3 linked regions of the Homo sapiens genome follow. The protein of the gene in region 1 interacts with the protein of each later gene in a biochemical or structural test. Each region holds a gene or a part of one and is shown on either strand. Other genes may lie near its edges.

What was found. Proteins that work in one complex are often made in the same cells at the same time.
Region 2: the proteins of DOK4 (region 1) and OPRM1 form a complex in vitro, tested with the Homo sapiens proteins (one study listed by BioGRID).
Region 3: the proteins of DOK4 (region 1) and ELK4 form a complex in vitro, tested with the Homo sapiens proteins (one study listed by BioGRID).

What each region holds. Positions count from the first base shown.
Region 1 is NC_000016.10:57,475,817-57,484,113, forward strand, and holds part of DOK4 (docking protein 4), read right to left. Parts: intron 4,574-8,297; exon of another isoform or gene 4,479-4,573; intron 3,942-4,478; exon of another isoform or gene 3,873-3,941; 5' UTR 3,692-3,872; coding exon 3,626-3,691; intron 142-3,625; coding exon 34-141; intron 1-33. UniProt on the Homo sapiens protein: DOK proteins are enzymatically inert adaptor or scaffolding proteins. They provide a docking platform for the assembly of multimolecular signaling complexes.
Region 2 is NC_000006.12:154,125,592-154,132,856, reverse strand, and holds the end of OPRM1 (mu-type opioid receptor), read right to left. Parts: 3' UTR 501-7,265; downstream 1-500. UniProt on the Homo sapiens protein: Receptor for endogenous opioids such as beta-endorphin and endomorphin. Receptor for natural and synthetic opioids including morphine, heroin, DAMGO, fentanyl, etorphine, buprenorphin and methadone.
Region 3 is NC_000001.11:205,615,012-205,622,659, reverse strand, and holds part of ELK4 (ETS domain-containing protein Elk-4), read left to right. Parts: intron 1-1,821; coding exon 1,822-2,694; coding exon of another isoform or gene 2,695-2,832; exon of another isoform or gene 2,833-3,392; intron 3,393-3,586; coding exon 3,587-3,703; intron 3,704-6,015; coding exon 6,016-6,114; 3' UTR 6,115-7,648. UniProt on the Homo sapiens protein: Involved in both transcriptional activation and repression. Interaction with SIRT7 leads to recruitment and stabilization of SIRT7 at promoters, followed by deacetylation of histone H3 at 'Lys-18' (H3K18Ac) and subsequent transcription repression.

The DNA of each region.
Region 1 (8,297 bases):
CACTTGGGGGAGCTAGGGCCCAGGCCTCCTAACCTTGGGGCAGCCCCGGAGGCACACCGACTTCTCATCTGGATACTTCTCCAGCCGCTGGGGCCCCTTGCTGGAGGATTTCCGGAACACCAGCCAGCACCTCCGGTAGATCTGTGGAGCGAGATGACAGGGCTCAGGCCTCCCTGGACCACTCCCACCCCACCAGCATGGCCCTGCAGCCACCCCTGCCTGCCACAGGGGGCGGTGCCGCACAGCCTTCCCTGGAGCCCCAGCCTGGGGACACCGGGGGTGGGAGTCACCAGCAGTGTCACCTCCCTGGGAGAGAAGCCTCCTCCCCAAATTGAAAAGTCATTGACTTCTTGGCTGGCTCCAAAACGCTGTTCCACAAAGGGTGCTCTCCTGACCTGCCATGTACTGTGTGCACCGCTGAGTTTAGTGTGAGTAGCCAACGTTCCTGAGTGCTTCCTGCTCACACCTGTTATTAGCACTGTGCACAGTCTCAGGGCCACTCCTGAGATCAGTTCTGTTATCATCCCCATTTTATAGATGGGGAAAGGGAGGCATCAAAACACTAAGGAATGGTGATGCTGGTATTTGCAGCAGGCTGTCTAGATCCAGGGCAGACCCTCACAGCCCACTGCAGGATCTGGCCAGGGCTCAGGCAGTGCCAGCCACAACAGAGGGGTCTCCTGGGGATAGGGATTAGACCCTTCCCCCTGCCCACCTGTACATCCCCGTGCCCCTAGTTCTCTGAGTCAGGTGAGGGTCTTTACAAAGGTAACCCCCACTCTTGTCTCCTGGGGCTTTCACTCACCCTCTCTTTTCATTCTCTTACCAACCCTGAAATGTAAGGGGCCCTGCTCCAGCTGGGAACCCAAAGCTGTTTGAGGTAAAGGGGTGGAGCTAGGAATCTGAGGCTCCTCCCACAGCATGGTGCCTTCCCTCCTGGCCCTGGCCACTGCTGATGCCCCTGTACCTTAAACTACCTACATTCTCTGTAGCTTCAGGGACTCCCCCAAGGGGGTGGGGAGCAGAGGGGAGTGACCACTCTAGGATTGAAGGGACAGACTGGCCTATCATTCATGGGTGGTGGAGAGGGAGTTGGCCCCAGCCACCAGCCAGAGCTGCCCTTGCATGACCCCTCCCTCCTGCCTAGACTTTTTTCTGCCCAAAGTCTGTGGCTGGGGTTTACCTACTCCTTCCAGCGGGCATTCCAAAAGCCCGACAGAGCCTGTTCCCCAGGCATCTCTGGTGTTCCTCTTACTGGAAACAGTAGGGAGACTGAGTGGTGGCCGAGAGCACAGCAGAGGAGGCCAGGGGGCCTCTAGGCCCCACCCCTCCTCGGCCCTACTGTGCCATGCGTACACTAGGTCCTTGGCAGGCAGGGTCCCAGGGTGCAGTGGCCCTAGGCAGCCCCCATTTCAAGATACCACTCAGAGCCAGGCCATTTCTGGCTCCTATCTGGGACCCTAGGAGGCATGTCTGCTCCTGCACCCCTGACCCTGGCTTGGCCCCTGTCCTACCCACCTAAACCACAGCAGCCCTCAGCTCTCAGCTGCAGCGCTCCCTTAAGACAGACACTGAATTTTATCCACAGAATCCTCACTCATATCCTGGTAGCCTCATTAACAGCCATGCTAAACAAGTGAATGACCATATGAAGGAACCGTGAATGAATGGATGGATGAATGGATGGATGCTGCCGACCCAGATACACCCTGCCAGGGTGGGCTCCATGCAGCCCGCAGCATCAGGGGCAGAAGGCCTGGGGGCCTGAGCATGCCGGTTGCCTGGTTACAGGATACACATTCACAGCCCCAGGGAGCCACGCGCTCAAGAGCCCTCCTTCCCACTTCGCACAGGGCTTTGATCAGTGCTTCAGAAACACTCTGCCACAGCTCTGCCGCGGGAGAAAGGCCCTGGCAGGTAGGAGAGCCGGCTCCTGATCTCTTTCAGCCCCTCCCCCCTCACCTCTGTGGGCTGAGATGAGAATGGCTGCTGGGGAGGGACCACAGCCTCTCACACCAGGGGAAGTGAGGCTCCTGGCTTCAGAGGGAAGAGAATTCCCTGCATGGATAGGGCCTGGCTATGCCCCACCTCCCCATCCAGGCTGTGCCCACCTGTCAGCCACTCAGTCTCCCTCTGGAACAGGTTTGATACTGAGCCCAAGTGGCTGCCCTTGTGGCTGGTGCCTTCCTGGCACACTCTGCCCTGGGCAAGGCCTCAGCCCAGCTGGCCCCTGGGGACCTGCTAAGTCTGGGGCCATAGGAATGAGAAGTGATGTTAGAAGCGAAGCCTCTGCTTCCTTGGCCTCCCTACCTCAGCCTCAGCTTCTCTCTTTGTTCTGTGCTCCAAGTCAGTGGGCTGATCCCCCTTTCAGAGGAAGAGCAAAGTAGCCGATGGCTGCCAGGGCCCAGTCTCAACTAGGTTGAGCCCCAGGGCAGGGAGGCACAGGAGGGGAAGTGGGGCCAGAACCACCTTCTCCAAGACCAGCCCTGCTCTGTCTGGTACCCAGGTAGGGAAGCTGGGTGGCAGATCCCTCTCCCACTCCGCATGCCCCCCAACCCCACTCAGGCTGAGCCAGGGATCCTTGAGCAGCCTGAGCCGACCCGCCCCCTTCAAGGCAATGGGAGAGAGAAGGGAGAAGGGGACAGGAGTCCTGGGTCAAACACAAGACTTGGGTGACCTCAGTCACCAGGGCTGTCCTTCCTACAGGGGAAGGGGCAACTGCCAGACCTGTCTTTGGCAGGGGGGCCTGGCAGAGGAATAGAGGCAGCTCTCAGACAGCCTCGCCGAGATCATGAAGTTGATCCCCTCTGCTCCTGTCTTCTAGGGGGTCTTCACCAGTTGGGGGTCTACAGAGGGTAGGACAGGATGCATGCCCAGTAAGACCTCTTCTCTGTAGCCCCTCCAAGCCCCCAGTTCAGGGCCAAGCACCAAGCAAGCACAGAGTCACCCACCAACAACTTGGAGGGAAGCAGCCTGTCCCAGAGCACTGGACCATTCTGCCCAAAGTTCTCATTTGGAAACCACATAAATATCAGCTTCAGTGCCTCACACCACCCCGTCTCGCCCAGCCAACCACTCCCCTTTTCAAACACTTCTTTAACATTAAACTCGACAACCAAAAATTTACTAAATATCTGCACACGGAAAGCAGTCAGAAGCAAGGGGAGAGGATGACCTAAAAGAAAAGAGGCCAGGAGAGGTGAGGGGAGGCCGGGGGTGGGGGGCAAACGGAAGGGAGAGGAGGCCAGGGGAAGTGAGACGCTGCTTCTCAGCTCAGACACAGCCCGGCCTTGCCAGCCGCCCCTGCTGCTGCTGTGGTGACAACTTCAACAATAGCAGGGGAGCCGCCTGCCCATCGGTGGCCACCATTGCTGCCACTACCACCACCACTGGCCCAGCTGTTGGGATGCCAGCCAGCCCTCTGGGGCGGGGGCTGCAGCAGGCAGAACCCAGCCCAGGCACATGCCAGGCAGCACGCTGGCGAGGAGCCCCGAGACCACAGATGCACGATGCCCGGCAGCCGGAGGGCAGCCGCGTGCCCCACGCGCCATGCCTCCAAGCCTGGGACCGAGTCCTCGGGCCCCCATCCCTTGGCAGGGCCCCTCCGCAGCTCAGGGTCACTCACCCCGAGCTTCCTGCTCTTCATCTTCACGTAGCCTTGCTTGACGATGTCACTGAAATTGGTCGCCATGGTTTTCCCACCTTTTAGGGGCGCGGGGCCTGGCAGAGGCGAGGGGAAGGATGCCCAGGTGCCTGGGTCTCCGGCTCCTCCAATCACCTGTTCCAGACACTCTGTCGGGGCTGCCGCGAGGGGCTGCTCCTCACCTCACCCGCCTCAGCATTGTTCTAGCAGCTCCTTCGCCCCGCGCCTGCTGGAAATAAAAATGACAGGGAGATTAGAGACAGTGACATCTTTCTCTTCCTCTCGCTGTCTCGCTCTCTTTTTTCCTTCCTCTTCCCACACTCCTCCTCTCTCCCTCTTCCCTCCCTCCTTCCTCCCGCCCTTCTTCCTTCCCTTCCCTCCCCACCCCAGGACGACAGAACCATTCAGGAAAACCGAGGTGGAGGCGGCAGTGAGGAAAATGGTCCAGCCCAGTCCCCTCCCTCACGGCTGGGGCTGGCAGTTAACCCCTTCCTGGGAGGACTGGCTCTGGCTCCTACTGTGGAGGTGGGGACCCAGGAAGGGAAGTGGCAGGGAGCTGCTGTCCCTCAGCACTTTGGGATCGTGGCCCCATCAACTGTGATAACTCTGGTGCAAATTTAGGTCAACTTGCCAAGAGCAAAAGCCCCTTCCTGGGTACAAGAGCTCCCAGGGGTAGCAGGGAAGCGCTTCCCAGAGATGGAGGAGGAGGGTCGCAGGAGATGACCCCTGCGTGTCTGAGTGAACCCCATGCTCTGCAATGTTAAAGACAATTTGCCTGGTCAGCTCAGCAGCCCCCACAAACCCCTCTACCCTCCTGCCCCACCCGGTCCTCTACCTGTTTCTCTCCAGCCCCAGGCTAAGAATCACTACCTCGAGCTCACGCAGGGCCTGTTCCCAGGCCCTGCAACTCTTCCGCACGCAGCTCTGGGTGCTGCTTCCTGGGTGGGAGGGCAGAGTCCAGTGGGGCGGGCCTCCAGATAAGCCTGAGGAATGTGCTGGGCCGGCTGGAGGTAGCCACTGTGGGAGCAGACGCCTTGCCCTGGCCCTGGGGTTGGGAACGCTGGCCAGTCCGTGAGGGTGGGGCCCGGGCCCCAACAGGCCACTGGGTCTGGCCAAGCCAAGCAGGCCCTCCATGTCCTGAGCATGGGCAGGAGTTAATTATAGGAGTACCAGTCAGGGCCCTGGGGCAACAAGACATGCAGGAGACAATGTGGGATACCAAGGGGAGGTAGATATGGAGCAGGAAGTGGGAGTACCAGCAGAGCCACCCCAAATCAGGCAGATCTACAGACAACAAAGACTCAGACTCAGGGGGAGGCTCAGTGTTGACCCAGTCTAACCCCTTCATTTTATAGATGGAGAAAGAAAAGTTGCCCAGAGAGGGTAAGCTACATGACTAAGGTCACACAGCAGGCCTGGGGCAGAGCCAGGGATGAAGGAGAAGGTCCAGGGTGGTGATGGAGACCAGTCTGTGGGGGGAACATCCTGCTGCCGTCTCTGGCTGCCTGCCACCACCTAAGCCTTCCCTGCCATCCATCCTCGGGGGCAGGGTTATGCCAGCAATGTGGCCCCTGTGTCTTCAGGATCAGCGGGTGGGAACGGAGCAGCATTTCTGGGGTCAGCTGGGTATCTGTGCTGCCAGAACGGGGCCCTGGGACAGGCATGCTGCTGGTTGTGCCAGCAGCTTGGCATTAATTAATGTCCTGGAGGCCTGTCTGTTGAGTGCCTAACAAGGAACAGATGGGACTACCCCAGTGGGCACACGCACAGATGGGACTACCCCAGTGGGCACACGCAAACAAGGGAGGGGCAGAGACGGTAATGCGCCCCTATCCCACTTGCACCCTGATAGCCCCTCAATTCCACTCCTGCCCATTCACTGCCTCTATCCCAGCTCCCTGGGGTCCAAGAACCTCCCACAGTTAGGCAGTCTACATTCCTCCTATAAGGTCTGGTCTGGGGTCCCCTCACTGGCAACTGATCCCCAACAGCTCTGCTACACCTGGGCTCTGGCAGCCAGAGATGGGTCAATTTTCTCAGCTCTGTCTTCACCGCCTGCCTCTGGGGCTGCCTTCTCCTCAGAGCAAGGACCAGCTCAGGAGTTCCTCTCCAAGATGATTAGCAGGCTGACCACTGGCTGTGGGTCTACAGTGTGGAAGCCCCCAGTCAGAACACGCCTACAGGAAGCCACTGGACCCCCAGGTTCATCCAACATAGCTCAGACATAGCACAGCCCGGAGTGTGAATCCAGCTGGCTGTGTGGTCCTGGGCAAGCCGCTTAAGACCCTGTGCCTTAATTTCCCCATTGGAAAAAAATGAGAATAAATCTACCTACTTTAAATGAGGAAATGAATTCATGAGGCACCTGCTTGCCCACTTGGGACACAGAGCTTCTACCCTTTTTCTTTTTCTTTTTCTTTTTTGAGACGGAGTCTCCCTCTGTCGCCCAGGCTGGAGTGCAGCGGCGCGATCTCGGCTCACTGCAACCTCTGCCTCCTGGGTTCACGCCATTCTCCTGCCTCGGCTTCCCGAGTAGCTGGAACTACAGGCTCCCACCACCATGCTCGGCTAATTTTCGGTATTTTTAGTAGAGACGGGGTTTCACCGTGTTAGCCAGGATGGTCTCGATCTCCTGACCTCATGATCCGCCCGCCTCGGCCTCCCAAAGTGCTGGGATTACAGGCGTGAGCCACTGCGCCCGGCCTTCTTTTTCTTCTTTTGAGACAGTGTCCTGCTCTGTCACCCAGGCTGGAGTGCAGGGGTGCCATCACGGCTTACGGCAGCCTCAACCACCCAGGCTCAAGTGATCCACCCACCTCAGCCTCCTGAATAGCTGGGACCGCAGGTACATACCACCATGCCCAGCTAATTTTTAAAAACTTGTTTGTAGAGATGGGGCTTTTGTTTTTTTTTTTTTTTTTTTTTGAGACGGAGTCTCACTCTATTGCCCAGGCTGGAGTGCAGTGGCCCAATCTCGGCTCATTGCAAGCTCCGCCTCCCGGGTTCACGCCATTCTCCTTCCTCAGCCTCCCGAGTAGCTGGGACTACAGGAGCCCACCACCATACCCGGCTAATTGTTTCATATTTTTAGTAAAGACGGGGTTTCACCGTGTTAGCCAGGATGGTCTCGATCTCCTGACCTTGTGATCCACCCGCCTCGGCCTTCCAACGTTCTGGGATTACAGGCGTGAGCCACTGCGCCCGGCCCCTAGAGATGGGTTTTCACCATGTTGCCCAGGCTGGTCTTGAACTCCTGGGGTCAAGTGATCCACAAGGCTCGGCCTCCCTGAGTGCTGAGATTACAGGTGTGAGCAACTGCGCCTGGCCAGAGCTTCTGCCTTGAAAACTCCAAGGGCTGTGTGTATGTATATATATATAGTTTTCTTCAAGAGTTGCTGCCCAGACAGGGCGGTGAAACCACCAGAAGCCAGCCTGCTCCTTCCCAGTGTTGCCCCACCAGGGACTGTGGCCCCAAGCTCGCAGGAGTGCTCCTGCTGCGTCTGTCCATAGGCCCCACCCCGTCCCATACCCCAGGTCCCCAGCGGGAAGAGTGACCTTCACGGGGAAGGCTGGGTGCCAAAGTCCTGCCAGCTCACTCCGGCCCTGAGTCACAGGGACCCCTGGCCACACTTAGTCCCTAATGATGTTTGCAAGAGCAAGACCTAACCTAGGACCCAAAATGGTGGGCAAAGAGGGGTTCGGAAGGGGAGGGAAAGGTCAGGGCCAATAGGTGGACCCACAAATTTGACAGGCAGTGGGGTCAAGTGGTGAGGGGGGGGCCCAGAACCAACCCACCATCCTCCAGAAGGAATGCACTGTGTTAAGCAAGCGAGGCGGCCCCCAAGCTGAGCCTGTGAAGGCCCAATAGGACAGCAAGAAGTGGAGAGCAGACCAGGCACAGTGGCTCACACCTGTAATCCCAACACTTTGGGAGGCCAAAGTGGGAGGATCACTTGGGGCCAGGAGTTCAAGACCAGATCCGGCAACATAGAGAGACCCCGTCTCTACAAAAAATGAAAAAATAAGCTGGGCATGTGGCACGTGCCTGTAGTCACAGCTACTGGGGAGGCCGAGGTGGGAGGATCACTTGAGCTCAGGAATTCCAGGTAGCAGTGAGCTATGATCAAGCCACTGCACTCCAGCCTGGGTGATAGAGTGAGACTGTTTCTAAAAAATTTCAAAAAAATCAATTAAAAAAATACAAAAATTGGAGGGCAGCTGAGGCTAGGCAGGCCAGGAATTGGGTTGAAGTAGCCCCTGCCCTGTTTGTCCCTCAGGCCCTTGTCCCCAACAGGCCTGCAGCAGGAAGAATGCTTGCTACTTTGAGAGGACCTGAGGTCTTGGGTCCTTCCCCAGCACTGTGAGCTCCGAGCTCCCAGCTAAGCACGGTGTCCAGCAGTCGCTCTCAGGGTTCCAGTGAGGGAGGAGGGGAGCAAGGGCCCCCCGCATCCCACCTCCCAGCCTGGTACCAATACTGCTGCTTACCCAGGGACAGTACCTGCCTGGTGCCAGGCCACCACAGGTTTCCGCGCAGGGAGAGCCAGCTCCAAAATGCTCCTCTCCCCAGGAAGGGCTGGTGTCCTGGGGTGGCGGGGAGTAGGGAGACTCCCAGGGCCCTCACTGCCCACCTGCCCCACAGGGCAGCCATGCTGAG
Region 2 (7,265 bases), on another chromosome or scaffold:
AGCCACCACGCCCAGCCGTTTTTTTCTTACCATAAAGTGTTTTCATGTTGAGACGTTTCCACTTCAAAAAATTGTACCTAACAACCCAGAGCATGCTCTGAATTTCACCTTATCAAACTCTTTGTTTCTTGCAAATAATTTTCCTGCTCAAAACATCAAGAACACATTTTTAAAAAAAGTAGACTATCAGTGGATTTAGCTGCCTATATTTTCAACTATAGACTTTACAGTGGATATTTTTCTTCTCTGTATGGTTTGGTTAGAATTCTAGCTTAGGAAGTTATGGTTGTCAAGGTTTAGAGACATTTTGGTTCTAAAAATAGAAATAATTCATGAAGAGAGAAAGTTCACTTCTTTATTTTGAAGTATTTATTTAGTATCAAAGTTGTCTGTTACTCTAATTCTTAGGCTATTTACCTACGTCGCAACATTTACTTGGGGAATATTCTTTTAAAACAGGTCAGTAATGTCAGAATGAGAAAGACAAGGGAAAATCTAGATTTGTATCAGTTTTAGGTTTTATTTATCACATATAATTACACATTACATATTACATGCAGGAAACTTACAATACAGCCTAATATGTTTATGTATGCTGGTACATCAAGAACAATACAATGCAAAAATTTATATTTTTTATATACAACTATCTGAAACAGTCAAATAGGAGTAATGTAAAAATAATTTAGTGAATTGCTCACTGTTTGATATACTAGTTGACATTTTGATCTGCACATGAGACCATTATGATTTAGCAGGTAGTTCTTTTGAAAGCTGCATCTGATCATCCTGTCCTACCTGGAAATGTGAAATAGTAGCTTTGTCTCTACTTTAAATGAAGATATTTATTTTTCAATAGTAAACAGACATGATGATGGAACTAACACACTAATGAAGAGAAAAAAAAAAAAAAACCAAAAACTTATAGAAAAACTCCCAGACCATCAAAAGGAAAACAATGTTGTGTGTTTTTTTTTAACATTCCTTTTTGTGCATTATCACAACAAACAATATATGTATTTGTCTCTATAGGCGAAATACAGGTTTCCAGGCAAATATTTTTGAAAAGCAGATGTGGGGAAAGAGCTTAAAAACACACACAGAAAGCATGTTGTGCTCACTGTTACAACTGTGGATTTCATACCATGTTTTGAAAGGTGATTGTGTTTTCATTTACTTGGATACAAAATCCGTAAAACAGAAACTATTCTATACTTTTTTATTTTAATATGACCAGTTGACATTTCTATGTCCTGTTTAGGTGTCTGGACTACTGTAAATTAAAATGTCACCCTGGCATACAAACTGAATCTACGTGCAGAGCAGCAGGGGTCTATCTTTTATTTCACCCCCAACACTGTCAAGGAAACGAATTAATTCTGCCCTTCTTTCAGACTCAGGAATATAAGCAGCTAGAAAGAGGACAATGGGTGGAAGGGTTGATTGCTTATGTTAGGTTTGACTTAAAGCTATAGAATAAAGAAGGAACAATTCAGTTGCCATTCTTATTCCTGGAGAGGAAAAATAGTTTGTGGGCAGGAGTCTGTTTAAAATGTCTGAACTTAATCAACCATGAGAGGCTCTCATTTACTCAGATTCTTTACAATATTTTGATTTTTTTCCTACGGAAACATTATATGTATCTTTTAAAACCAAGGGTTATTAGTTACCTGAATTTCAAATGCAATTTAAAACATGGAGGACATCTTTTCTTTTCTAGTGGAAATTATATTTGGATAGCAAAAAATGTGTCATTAATGTTATAAAAAAATGTAATGACAAGTGACAGAGCACCTAATCTTTAGACTTACTTTTTTTTAACTTTCCTATTTGCTATGTTTGACAGAGTAGTTTTTCAATTTTTTAAAATAAATCTGCACTTACAAGGTTTCTTTTTTTCATATAACATAATAAAATGAAAACAACAAGATCACTCATTGTTTTACATTTTCATAACTGGCTATTTAAGTATGTAAAAGTTCAGGAAATGTATTGCCAGGGGAAGGATGACTTAGTGAAAACAGGCATTTTTTCTTTAATTCCCATTAAAATAATGGAAATGTATGTGCCAATATAAATTCCCATTTATATTGGTATATATATATTCCCTTTATATATTCTATTTATATTGGTAGATATATTTTTATGGAATGGCATATATACTTTCATATAATGGTACTAATGCTTTTATATGGATATACAATTAGTATATAAAGGGAATATATATACTAGTATTTCTAACTTAATTCCTATTAAATTGATGGGGATTTATAGGCAAATATTCATATAGCTATGCCTAACACAGAAATTTTTATGGTAGGAGTATTAAATTATAAATGGTAGCATTGAATTTTATGGATTCAAGATTTATGAAATTTTAAACATTTCTGGCCAGGCGCAGTGGCTCACACCTGTAATCCCAACACTTTGGGAGGCCGAGGCAGGCAGATCACGAGGTCAGGAGATCGAAACCATCCTGGCTAACGTGGTGAAACCCCATCTCTACTAAAAATACAAAAAATTAGCCAGGTGTTGTGGCGGGCACCTGTAGTCCCAGCTACTCAGGAGGCTGAAGCAGGAGAATGGTGTGAACCCGGGAGGCAGAGGTTGCAGTGAGCCAAGATTGAGCCACTGCACTCCAGCCTGGGCGACAGAGTGAGACTCCATCAAAAAAAAAAAAAAAAAAGAAAATTTAAACATTTCCATGAAATCGATGGTTTGGGTAGAGACAAAATAATTTAAATTTCAAATTAAGATTTAGATAGAGATAGTATAATTGAAAGCAAATTCTAATTTTCATTTTAAGTTTACTTCCAGAGTACAAATGTAAATAACAAGAGTGCAAGTAAATTATTGATGCTGGAGTTTCAAATAAGGAGGTAAGCCTTTGGTAAATTGTATTTTAGTATTGATTGCATTTTATTTTGATTACAACTATCATATAATTCCCACGGGTCCATTTCACTATGTTGTGTGTGTGTGTGTGTGTGTGTGTGTGTGTGTGCTGGGGGGGGAGGGTGTCGGTGGTAAAGTACGCTTAAAATGCAAAGTGCCTGACTGATAAGAGAAACTTCAACCAAACCAGCCATTTAAAAAAATCACAGGAGTCTTCAAAAGCTTGAGCAGCTGTAGAGCAATCCCCAACAGTCTGGGAGCTCATCAGACCTTGAACTAAAGAAATATGTTTCAAGAATAGATATAGAACTATTTTTCAAATGAATGTAGATGTTCTTATGAGAACTAAAATACACATCTGAAATTATTATTGACATTTTAGTTTTTCCATTATGATTTTCTGTAACAGTGGGCACTAAAACTCAATTATGTGGAAGTCTCCAATCATATATGATGTTGACATTGAGAGGAGAGAAAGACCCTCTCACATTGTTTTATATTGTTTCATATTCAGTAAAAACAACAAGGAAGTAAAACCAAATACAGGCAGCTCAGCGCCAGGCCCGAAACCAGGCCTGGGCCCGCCTGGCCTAAACCCAGTAGTTAAAAATCAACTTATGATTTAGAAGCCGATGTTATTCATAGATTCCTTACATTGTATAGAAGAACATTGTTCTGTTCTCTATTGTATAGAAGAACTCCCTGTCCTGTTCTGTTCCTCCCAGACCACCGGTGCATGCAGCCCCTGTCACATACCCCTTGCTTGCTCAAATCAATCACGACCCTTTCATGTGAAATCTAGTGTTGTGAGCCCTTAAAAGGGACAGAAATTGTGTACTCAGGGAGCTTGGATTTTGAGACAGTAGCTGGTCGATGCTCCCAGCTGAATAAAGCCCTTCCTTCTACAACTCGGTGTCTGAGAGGTTTTGTCTGTGGCTCATCCTGCTACACCATGAGGTTCCTATACTTCAAAATATTAATAAAACACAGATATAAGTTAAAACTCCTATTCTCTTTTGACATAATAGAGCCAAATTGACTTATGTTTATAGATCCAATTTAACATTAATTTCCTGTTTTTTACAAAGATCTCTGTGCACTATGCAAAAACAGAGCTAGAAGAAACAATACTAGTTTTTAAATTTATGTCAGAAATAGCATAGCTATTACCTGGCAGTTCCCATTTATCAGACCTTCAGCTCTCCATGAGGTACAAGGTAGCCTTTTTCCTCAATGATGTCTTTATGTGCTCAGTCTCCAGCTGTCTCTGGGAAACCAGCTAGTTCGAGAACAACCAGTATGATTGCTTCAACTGTCTTCAGGATCAATGATAAAACAGTAACCAAATTGATCTCTCAATTTCCTACTGTGAGTTTCAAACTTATTATGAGAAAAAAAAGAATTAAAAGAGGTGCCCATATTTTAATATGCATGTGCACATTCATGGGGCAACATACATCCTGGCACAAGGATCCTCAACGGACTGTCCCAGTTCTTAGACTTCACTGGAATTTTGCTATGGTGAACATTGCTTCAAATAAATGGTCCTTCAGCTGTTATTAGGAATTGTACTAAATAATTTGGTGCATAGATTTGCTTATGATAAGATTTAGTTAGAAGGAAGGAGTTCATTATAAAAGTGAAAAAGGAATCCCGTAGTCAGAATTAACTCCACCTTCATTTTATTCTTTTAATAAGTGGGTAAAGTTTATTAAGAAAACACACAAATCACTGGGCAGATCTTCAGGTAAACACCAGTTTTTCTTATTGTTATTTTCCCCCAGCCCATTCAGAAGTTATATGATTGAATTACAGGTAGCAAGGGGATCCTGAGAACACTTGCCAGATTACTATTTGTAATACTGAATTTATAAATCCTGGAAATACTCTGTTATTTGAACCTAATTTATACAGATGCGGTAGCTTGCATGGAAAGTACTCAGCTGGGGAGTAGGCCTATTGGTTTTCTCTGGTCCCTTGAGAAATAAGGGCCATGAATTTCCATAAAGCAAATGAGTTTTGAGTTAATACAGCAGTGATCAGTTACAGCTTACCACTGAGACAGAGCACTGGGTGAGCCTGGGGGCAGACGGGAACAAATTGTATTACAGCCAAAGAGAATTACAGGAAGCCTTTGTTATTTTCCTGTTTTCTGAATGAACCCCTGCAGAGGCAGGAACAGGCATTAGGAATCAGGTTTGCCACCTGCAGAGATGCAGGAGAACAAGAATCAACCTATGGATTTCTTGTGCTAGTCAGGATATTGGAGATTGAATTCTGACTGGCTCTAAGTCAAAATGATGGAGAGAAGAGAGTTGTTATTTAGTGAAAGCGAGGGGTGGGGAGGGTTGTAGCCGGCCCACCACAATGTCAAGTCATGAGCACAGGTACATCTCAATTGGTGGTGTGGACCTCCTAATCTAGTCTGGTAGTTCTTATCCTGAGCGTGTATCTGTGTGATGACAAACATTTCAGGGACAAGTAAAACGTCTTAAACACAACAAACAAATAAACAAGCAACAGCAACAAAAAACCCAAACAAAACCTCCCCCTAAGCCCCTAAACCCTTGAAGAGTAGGCAAGTAGGGCATAGGTGTTTCTGAAAACACCTAACTGGTCATTTTATTCAAATTCACTTTATAAATGAGACCTCTTCTTTTGGAAGTCTCTGGCGGAATCCTTAGATGATAATGGCCACTGATTTCAAAGCATGACATCTCAGAACACAGCAAAGAAAAGCCACATGTATCACTATGGTAGGAAAAGTGTAGAATTTAATACTGCATCTCAAGGCTGTGTTGTGTGAAGGAAACTTTGGGCACATAGCATGGCATGTGGCACTTTTTTTTTTTTTTGAGACAATCTCATTCTGTTGCCCAGGCTGGAGTGCAATGCTGCGATCTTGGCTCACTGCAACTTCCGCCTCCCCAGTTCAAGCAATTCTCCTGCCTCAGCCTCCCGACTAGCTGGGATTACAGGCGTGCACCACCACGCCTTCCTAATTTTGTATTTTTAGTAGAGATGGGGTTTTACCATATTGGCCAGGATGGTCTTGATCTCCTGACCTTGTGTTCCGCCCGCCTCGGCCTCCCAAAGTGCTGGAATTACAGGCGTGAGCCACCGCGCCCAGCAGGCACTTTTTTATTTGGGGAAAGTAAGAAGTCTAATATGTCACCAGCAGGACCCACATGTTTACCTCTGCTTGGAGAACCTTTGAGGCATTACTGAAGGCTGTACACCTGTCACTGAGCCTTCCTAACACAGAGCAGTGAACAACCATGGAAGCCAAATCTACCCTGCAGATGAAAAGAGGCACCAGCTGATTCTAGGCTTGGTTGTTTCGGTGTCACAGCAGTGTAGGGTGGTGACATTGCCACCACAACCAGATACAGAATATGAAAAGCACTTCTGCAACCCAGAAACCCAGCTCCTGAGGGAACCAGGGAAGAAGAGCCTATGAGACATTTGAATTTTGCAAATATTGGGTAGTGTTGGGACACTTCTGCCCTTCTTGAAATGGGGGAATATAATTGTTGTTCTCCTTCCCAGAATTTCTTTGTCTTTGTCCTCTTGGACAGTGAAATCACAACCATTAGGTCACACAAATGTAGTCTCCTCTCCCTTCTCTCTGGTCTTGTTAATTAAAGCAGTTTTGCTGTGCTTAAATTAATGAAGCTCACTCATGTTGTTCAGTGAATATGGCTATGTTCAATTTTACCCAGACTCTTAGGAAAAGAGTTGTCTTCTTTATTTCCTCTTTTTTTTTTCTCTTCTCCTATATCTTCTGTGGTTTATACCACTTATCTCATTTCCGTTTGGTATTTTGTAACCCTGTGAATTTATCAAAAAATGTCTAGCCGGGCCGGGCGCGGTGGCTCACGCCTGTAATCCCAGCACTTTGGGAGGCCGAGGCGGGCGGATCACGAGGTCAGGAGATCGAGATCATCCCGGCTAAAACGGTGAAACCCCGTCTCTACTAAAAATACAAAAAATTAGCCGGGCGTAGTGGCGGGCGCCTGTAGTCCCAGCTACTTGGGAGGCTGAGGCAGGAGAATGGCGTGAACCCGGGAGGCGGAGCTTGCAGTGAGCCGAGATCCCGCCACTGTACTCCAGCCTGGGCGACAGAGCGAGACTCTGTCTCAAAAAAAAAAAAAAAAAAAAAAAAAAAAAAATGTCTAGCCTTAGTGGGCAATGCAAACTTAAATAAAACATTTATGCATTTGAAGCGAAAGAGCGTAAGTTTAAGAGACTTTAAAGCAAATGGGATGTGATAGCCTGTTTTCAACTTTTAGGTCCTTTCAAAAATCAAATTGCAAAGGAAGTTGTAGGTAATATTGGAAACCACCTTTCTCTGGAAGGTTTTTTTTGCT
Region 3 (7,648 bases), on another chromosome or scaffold:
GTAATGCCAGCACTTTGGGAGGCTGCAGCAGGAGGATCACTTGAGCCCAGAAATTTGAGACCAGACTGGGCAACACAGGGAGACCCCGTCTCTACAAAAAACAGTGTGGCGCGGTGGTGTACACCTGTAGTCCCAGTGCCCAGGAGGCTGAGGCAGGAGGATCACTTAAGCTCAAGTGGTTGAGGCTGCAGTGAGCCATGATCACACACCACTGCACTCCATGAGAACCCTGTCTTGTTGGGGAGAAAAGTCATATATGTACATATACACACACACATATATCTACATATATACGTTTTATATCTTAATTTTTAGTTTTAGTTTAACCCAGGGAACACAAATTAAAACCTTATACCTTAAGTAGTAGCTGTTTATACACAGAGTTGGTTTTTTAGTTAAAATTGCTGAGATCTTAATTTCTTTCACTTTTTTTTGTTTGTTTGTTTGAGACGGAGTCTTGCTCTGTTGCCCAGGCTGGAACACAGTGGCGTGATCTCAGCTCACTGCAACTTCTGCCTCCCAGGTTCAAGTGATTCACCTGCCTCAGCCTCCCGAGTAGCTGGGACTACAGACATGCACCACCACACCTGGCTAATTTTTGTATTTTTGGTAGAGATGGGGTTTCACCATCTCTACGGGAGGCTGGTCTTGAACTCCTGACCTCAGGCAGTCCACCTGCCTTGGCCTCCCAGAGTGCTGGGATTACAGGCGTGAGCCACTGTGCAGGGCTCTTTCACCATTAAGTGGTTGATCTTACCAGCTTTCCTGTCTGGAGATAAACTGGAATTTCTGAAGGAAGTAAGAACCTTAACAGATACTATGTTCTAAATTCCTTTTTCACAGCCGGGCGCGGTGGCTCACGCCTGTAATCCCAACACTTTGGGAGGCCGGGGTGGGTGGATCAGTTGAGGTCAGGAGTTCAAGACCAGCCTGGCCAACATGGCAAAACCCCATCTCTACTAAAAATACAAAATTAGCTGGGCATGGTGATGTGTGCCTATAATCCCACCTACTTGGGAGGCTGAGGCAGGAGAATTGCTTGAACCCAGGAGGCAGAGGTTGCAGTGAGCTGAGATCACACCACTGCACTCCAGCCTGGGTGACAGAGTGAGACTCCATCTCAAAAAAATAAGTAAATAAATTCCTTTTTGCTTACTCAGGATGTGTATGGCTTATACCTTTGGAATTGTTTGAGACTGCAGTTCAGGGAGTTCTAATCTGCACAGATATTTGGTTGAGAGTGGTAAGCAATTAAAATCCTTCAGTTTTTATGTAACATATTAGTTCAGTTGTTAATAAGACATTTAAATGTTCTTGCCTTAACTTCTCCATAATAGTAGGGACTGTGTTTGGTATGGCTAGATGAATTTAGGTGATTTTGAAAGTTTTAAGTAAGTGATGTCTACTTCTAAAATGGAGAACCTCATTACCAGCTTTTTCTTTTTTTTTTTTTTTTTTTTTTTTTTAAGACAGACTCTTGCTCTGTCACCAGGCTGGAGTGCAGTGGTGTGATCTTGGCTCACTGCAACCTCCGCCTCCCGGGTTCAAGGGATTCACCTGCCTCGGCCTCCTGAGTAGCTGGGACTACAGGCGCACGCCACCATGCCCTGCAAATTTTTTCTGTTTTAGTGGAGACGGGGTTTCACCATGTTGGCCAGGCTGGTCTCAATCTCCTGACCTCGTGATCCGCCCTCCTCGGCCTTCCAAAGTGCTGGGATTACAGGCATGAGCCACTGTGCCTGGCCGATGCCAGCTTTTTCATGAACTATGGGATATAAGTTTATAAGAAAGGATAAAAATGCTTTTTTTTTTAACCTACAGAATATCATCAAAAAAGTGAATGGTCAGAAGTTTGTGTACAAGTTTGTCTCTTATCCAGAGATTTTGAACATGGATCCAATGACAGTGGGCAGGATTGAGGGTGACTGTGAAAGTTTAAACTTCAGTGAAGTCAGCAGCAGTTCCAAAGATGTGGAGAATGGAGGGAAAGATAAACCACCTCAGCCTGGTGCCAAGACCTCTAGCCGCAATGACTACATACACTCTGGCTTATATTCTTCATTTACTCTCAACTCTTTGAACTCCTCCAATGTAAAGCTTTTCAAATTGATAAAGACTGAGAATCCAGCCGAGAAACTGGCAGAGAAAAAATCTCCTCAGGAGCCCACACCATCTGTCATCAAATTTGTCACGACACCTTCCAAAAAGCCACCGGTTGAACCTGTTGCTGCCACCATTTCAATTGGCCCAAGTATTTCTCCATCTTCAGAAGAAACTATCCAAGCTTTGGAGACATTGGTTTCCCCAAAACTGCCTTCCCTGGAAGCCCCAACCTCTGCCTCTAACGTAATGACTGCTTTTGCCACCACACCACCCATTTCGTCCATACCCCCTTTGCAGGAACCTCCCAGAACACCTTCACCACCACTGAGTTCTCACCCAGACATCGACACAGACATTGATTCAGTGGCTTCTCAGCCAATGGAACTTCCAGAGAATTTGTCACTGGAGCCTAAAGACCAGGATTCAGTCTTGCTAGAAAAGGACAAAGTAAATAATTCATCAAGATCCAAGAAACCCAAAGGGTTAGAACTGGCACCCACCCTTGTGATCACGAGCAGTGATCCAAGCCCACTGGGAATACTGAGCCCATCTCTCCCTACAGCTTCTCTTACACCAGCATTTTTTTCACAGGTAGCTTGCTCGCTCTTTATGGTGTCACCATTGCTTTCATTTATTTGCCCTTTTAAGCAAATCCAGAATTTATACACTCAAGTTTGCTTTCTGTTACTTAGGTTTGTCTTAGAAAGGTTATGTGTGACTGTCATGTGAAAGTTACCCCATTTCTCATCTTAATTAGGATTGCTAAAATAGAAAGTTTGGAGTATTTTCTTAAAAAATTCATTGTTCTACAAGTAAATAAATATTTTGATTTTTCTATTTCCTCCTAAAGAAAGTACACACACTCTCTCGCTCTCTCTCGGTCTTATAAAACTCGTTGGTGTCTTATAAAACAAACAGTGATAATCTCAAGTTAGAAAACAGTAGGTCCTGAGAACCATAAGAAAAATGACTGGTGTGATGTTGAGTAACAAGTTGGTACAGTTACTTTAGCTATTTATTAACTTGCTCATCTCATAGAACATTTTAGTAGATTTTTCACACACCTCATTATTAAAAAAAAACAAACATGCTGGTGTCTTGGTTACCCATTATTCCTCTGTACCTGAATTCAGGTTGGTTTTTCTATTTGGAAAAGACTTTATAAATGTTGGCTTAAAAAGAGGTTGAGCACCAGAATCTCAGAATTTACCACCAAAGAACTCATCCATGTAACCAAAAACCACTTGTACCCCCAAAAACTATTGAAATAAAAATTTAAAAAATTTTAAGTAGTTATTATCACCTTTATCCCTCTTAGTTTGTAAAAATAATTTTTGAGTTTTGTCATGATAATATTTCAGACTTGGAGATATTTGGAGTGGAGGATAGGGCAATATTTAGGTTTGGGTTATTTGTGTGCTGTTTCAAGGATAAAACATCCTGGTAAGTCAGTCAGTGAATATTTTTGCTTTGTGTATTGCAGACACCCATCATACTGACTCCAAGCCCCTTGCTCTCCAGTATCCACTTCTGGAGTACTCTCAGTCCTGTTGCTCCCCTAAGTCCAGCCAGACTGCAAGGTGCTAACACACTTTTCCAGGTAATTTTATAAATATCTGTCTTCTGTAGTTGGAGCATGTTAAATGAAGAAAGAGGCAAAAAGGCAGGGTCCCACTATTCAGTTTAATCATTATAAAACTTCTATTTAATGAATATTCTTTTTTTATTTTTTTGAGATGGAGTCCTCACCATGTCACCCAGGCTGGAGTGCAGTGGCATAATCTCAGCTCACTGCAACCTGCACCTTCCAGGTTCAAGCGATTCTCCTGCCTCAGCCTCCGGAGTAGCTAAGATTACAGGTGTGCAACACCACGTCTGGTTGATTTTTGTGTTTTTAGTGAGACAGGGTTTGACCATGTTGTCCAGACTGGTCTCCAACTCCTGACCTCAGGTGATCCGCCCACCTTGGCCTCCCAAAGTGTTGGGATTACAGGCATGAGCCATTGTGCCCTGCCCAATGAATATTCTTTAGATTTATTTTTGAATTTCCAAATATTAATTTTCTAGCTGGCAAACAGCTTGAATAAATATAGCAAAGTTTCATTTTCATTATTTACTATTACATACATTTGAGTTAGACCAAGAATTGTTCAATACTGTAGGAGATTTAGAGCCTACCCCAAGTTTTTGTCACTAGAAATTCTCTATTTAAAAAAAAAAAATGGGCCAGGCAGTGTGTGTGTCATGCCTGTAATCCCAGCGCTTTGGTAGGCCGAGGCAGGAAGATTGCTTGAGCTCAGGAGTTTGAGACCAGCCTGGACAACCTAAGGAGACCTTGTCTGTACTAGAAATAAAAAAAATTAAGTTAGGCATGGTAGCACGTGCCTGTGGCCCCTAGAGCTACTTGGGAGGCTGAGGTGGGAGGACCGCTTGAGCCCAGTAGATCAAGGCTGCAGTGAGCTATAATGGCACCGCTGCACTCCGGCCTGGGTGACACAGTGAGACCTTGTCTCAAAAAAACAAAATCCACACACACACACTCTCTCTCTCTCTCTTGCTCTCTCTCTCTCTCACACACACACACACACACATATATGGGGGATCTCTGCACATAGGTTCCCTCTTTTAATTAAAGATTAAAAAAAATTTTTTTTTGAGGCGGAGTTTTGCTCTTGTTGTCCAGGCCAGAATGCAATGGCACGATCTCAGCTCACTGCAACCTCTGCCTCCTGGGTTCAAGCGGTTCTCCTGCCTCAGCCTCCCGAGTAGCCAGGATTATAGGCATGTGCCACCATGCTAGGCTAATTTTGTATTTTTAGTAGAGACGAGGTTTCTTCATGTTGATCAGGCTGGTCTCAAACTCCTGACCTCAGGTGATCCGCCCGCCTCAGCCTCCCGAAGTGCTGGGATTACAGGCATGAGCCACTGCACGCGGCCCAAGCATTTTTTTTTTTTTAATAGAGAAAGGTCTTGAAAATGGTATATCAAACAGTCCCATTTCTCCCTCAGTCAGAATTGATAATTTATCAACATTTTATATGTACATTTTTAAAAAAATGAATATTATCTCTTCACCAAGACGTTAGGAAAGTTCTTGCCATTCCTAATGGGTTTAGCCATTATTTTGCCCAAAACACTTAGATGTTATAACTTAAAGACTTTCTTGGAGTCAATTCATTTACTTATTCATGGTTGACTATCTCTGATTTTCTTATATTTTGTAATTTAACTTCTCATTCTTTTAGAAATGAAATGGTAGGGAAAAAGAGGAAAATTAAAAATCTCTCTGCTTTTTATTTTTTGCCAACGTTTAAAATTATTGAATAGAAAAAAAAGTTGAGAATTTTTCATATTTTTTTTCATTGCCACACATGAGCAGATAATTGAGTTATAGAGTCAGCTGAGACCTTAAGCAAAGTCATAGTGCTCCTGTAGCTTCAGCCTGGAATCTCCCTGTAGAGCTGGCCTCAGAATACTTGATGGGGAACCCTTTTCTAGGATGAGTGCTATTTATACCTTTCTGGATCTCTTTTTGAGGGTTTATGATTTGCTCCATAATTGAATTACACTCTGTAGTGCATATTGTCATTTACTTGAACTTTCTAAAACCTTCATTTGAGGTTAATTGTAAACCTGTGTACCTTAGGATATGAAGGAGGGTACAGGTTGTTCTTTGTTTCTACTCCATTGAGGTAAGTTGGAGAATGTTAATATTTAATATGTTAGGACAAAAGATTTTTGTTTCTAGTTTTTGTTATGACATCATATTCTTTCATGATAAACAGCCACTGCCTTTGTCCTGTGAGCCATTACAGAAGGCTGTTGTGTTTTGCCTCAGGTAATAGAGTAGGATAGAAAGTAAAAGTTGGGGTTGAGTAATAGGATGATAATGTGTTTTGTTTTCTTTCTCAGTTTCCTTCTGTACTGAACAGTCATGGGCCATTCACTCTGTCTGGGCTGGATGGACCTTCCACCCCTGGCCCATTTTCCCCAGACCTACAGAAGACATAACCTATGCACTTGTGGAATGAGAGAACCGAGGAACGAAGAAACAGACATTCAACATGATTGCATTTGAAGTGAGCAATTGATAGTTCTACAATGCTGATAATAGACTATTGTGATTTTTGCCATTCCCCATTGAAAACATCTTTTTAGGATTCTCTTTGAATAGGACTCAAGTTGGACTATATGTATAAAAATGCCTTAATTGGAGTCTAAACTCCACCTCCCTCTGTCTTTTCCTTTTCTTTTTCTTTCCTTCCTTCCTTTTCTTTTCTCCTTTAAAAATATTTTGAGCTTTGTGCTGAAGAAGTTTTTGGTGGGCTTTAGTGACTGTGCTTTGCAAAAGCAATTAAGAACAAAGTTACTCCTTCTGGCTATTGGGACCCTTTGGCCAGGAAAAATTATGCTTAGAATCTATTATTTAAAGAAATATTTGTGAAATGAATTGGCATCTTTAGGACTAAGTGTGCTCTGTTGAATGACTTAAAGTGAGCTGTTCCTAAGCAGTGGAAGAAGAAGAATCATTCCTATTCATACAAAGTAAGATTGGAGCAGTCATACTGGGGAGATTGTTTTGTGTGAACTATAACGTGTAAGCAACTCCATGAAAAGGCATCTTGTTTACCTTTATTCAGGGTGGATCTCTTAGCCATATGTATGATCCTGTCTGAACCTGTCAACAGAGCATGGAGCTAGTCTATTTCACTATAGAAAGATTTTTAGACCTGGGGTTTAAGACAGTTTTTGGAACACCTAGTAAGAATATGGGACCTCACATCTAGCACAGAAATGCTCTTTGCCCTCTGGGTGGTATGATTATATGCCCATGGAATACAGCATGGGAAATGATCACTTTTAGGAGGATGAACTTGGATTTTGAATATTTGAAACATCTCTGAGTAAAAGATTCGATCAGATAACTTGAAACAACATGTAGTGGTTTTCTCAATTAGAAGATAACCAAGTGAAGGACCTGTCTTTTTCCTGTTCATTTTACCTCATTTTCTACTATACATTTATCACCTTTCCTTTATGTTTAAGGTTGTTAGAGGTTATGATAGTTTTAAAGATGCAGTTAGGAAGGTAGAATTCAAAGTGAAGCCTCCCCAGTCAGGAGCGAAGATGTGCTTATTTCCTTTTTTTTTTTTTTTTTTTTTTTTTGAGACAGAGTCTTGCTCTATCACCCAGGCTGGAGTGCAGTGGCGCGATCTCAGCTCACTGTAAGCTCCGCCTCCCGGGTTCAAGCAATTCTCCTGCCTCAGCCTCCTGAGTAGCTGGGACTACAGGCATGCGCCACTACGCCTGGCTAATTTTTGTATTTTTAGTAGAGACGGGGTTTCACCATGTTGGCCAGGATGGTCTTGATCTCTTGACCTTGTGATCCGCCCACCTCAGCCTCCCAAAGGCGCAGGCTCAGATGTGCTTATTTCTTTCAACTTTTTTTTTTTAAATGGGGAAGAGCAGAGTTCATTTGGGAATGCTTATACATAGGGATTGGATTGTTCATATTAGTAGTAAAAAATGTAGGCCTTATTCTCTA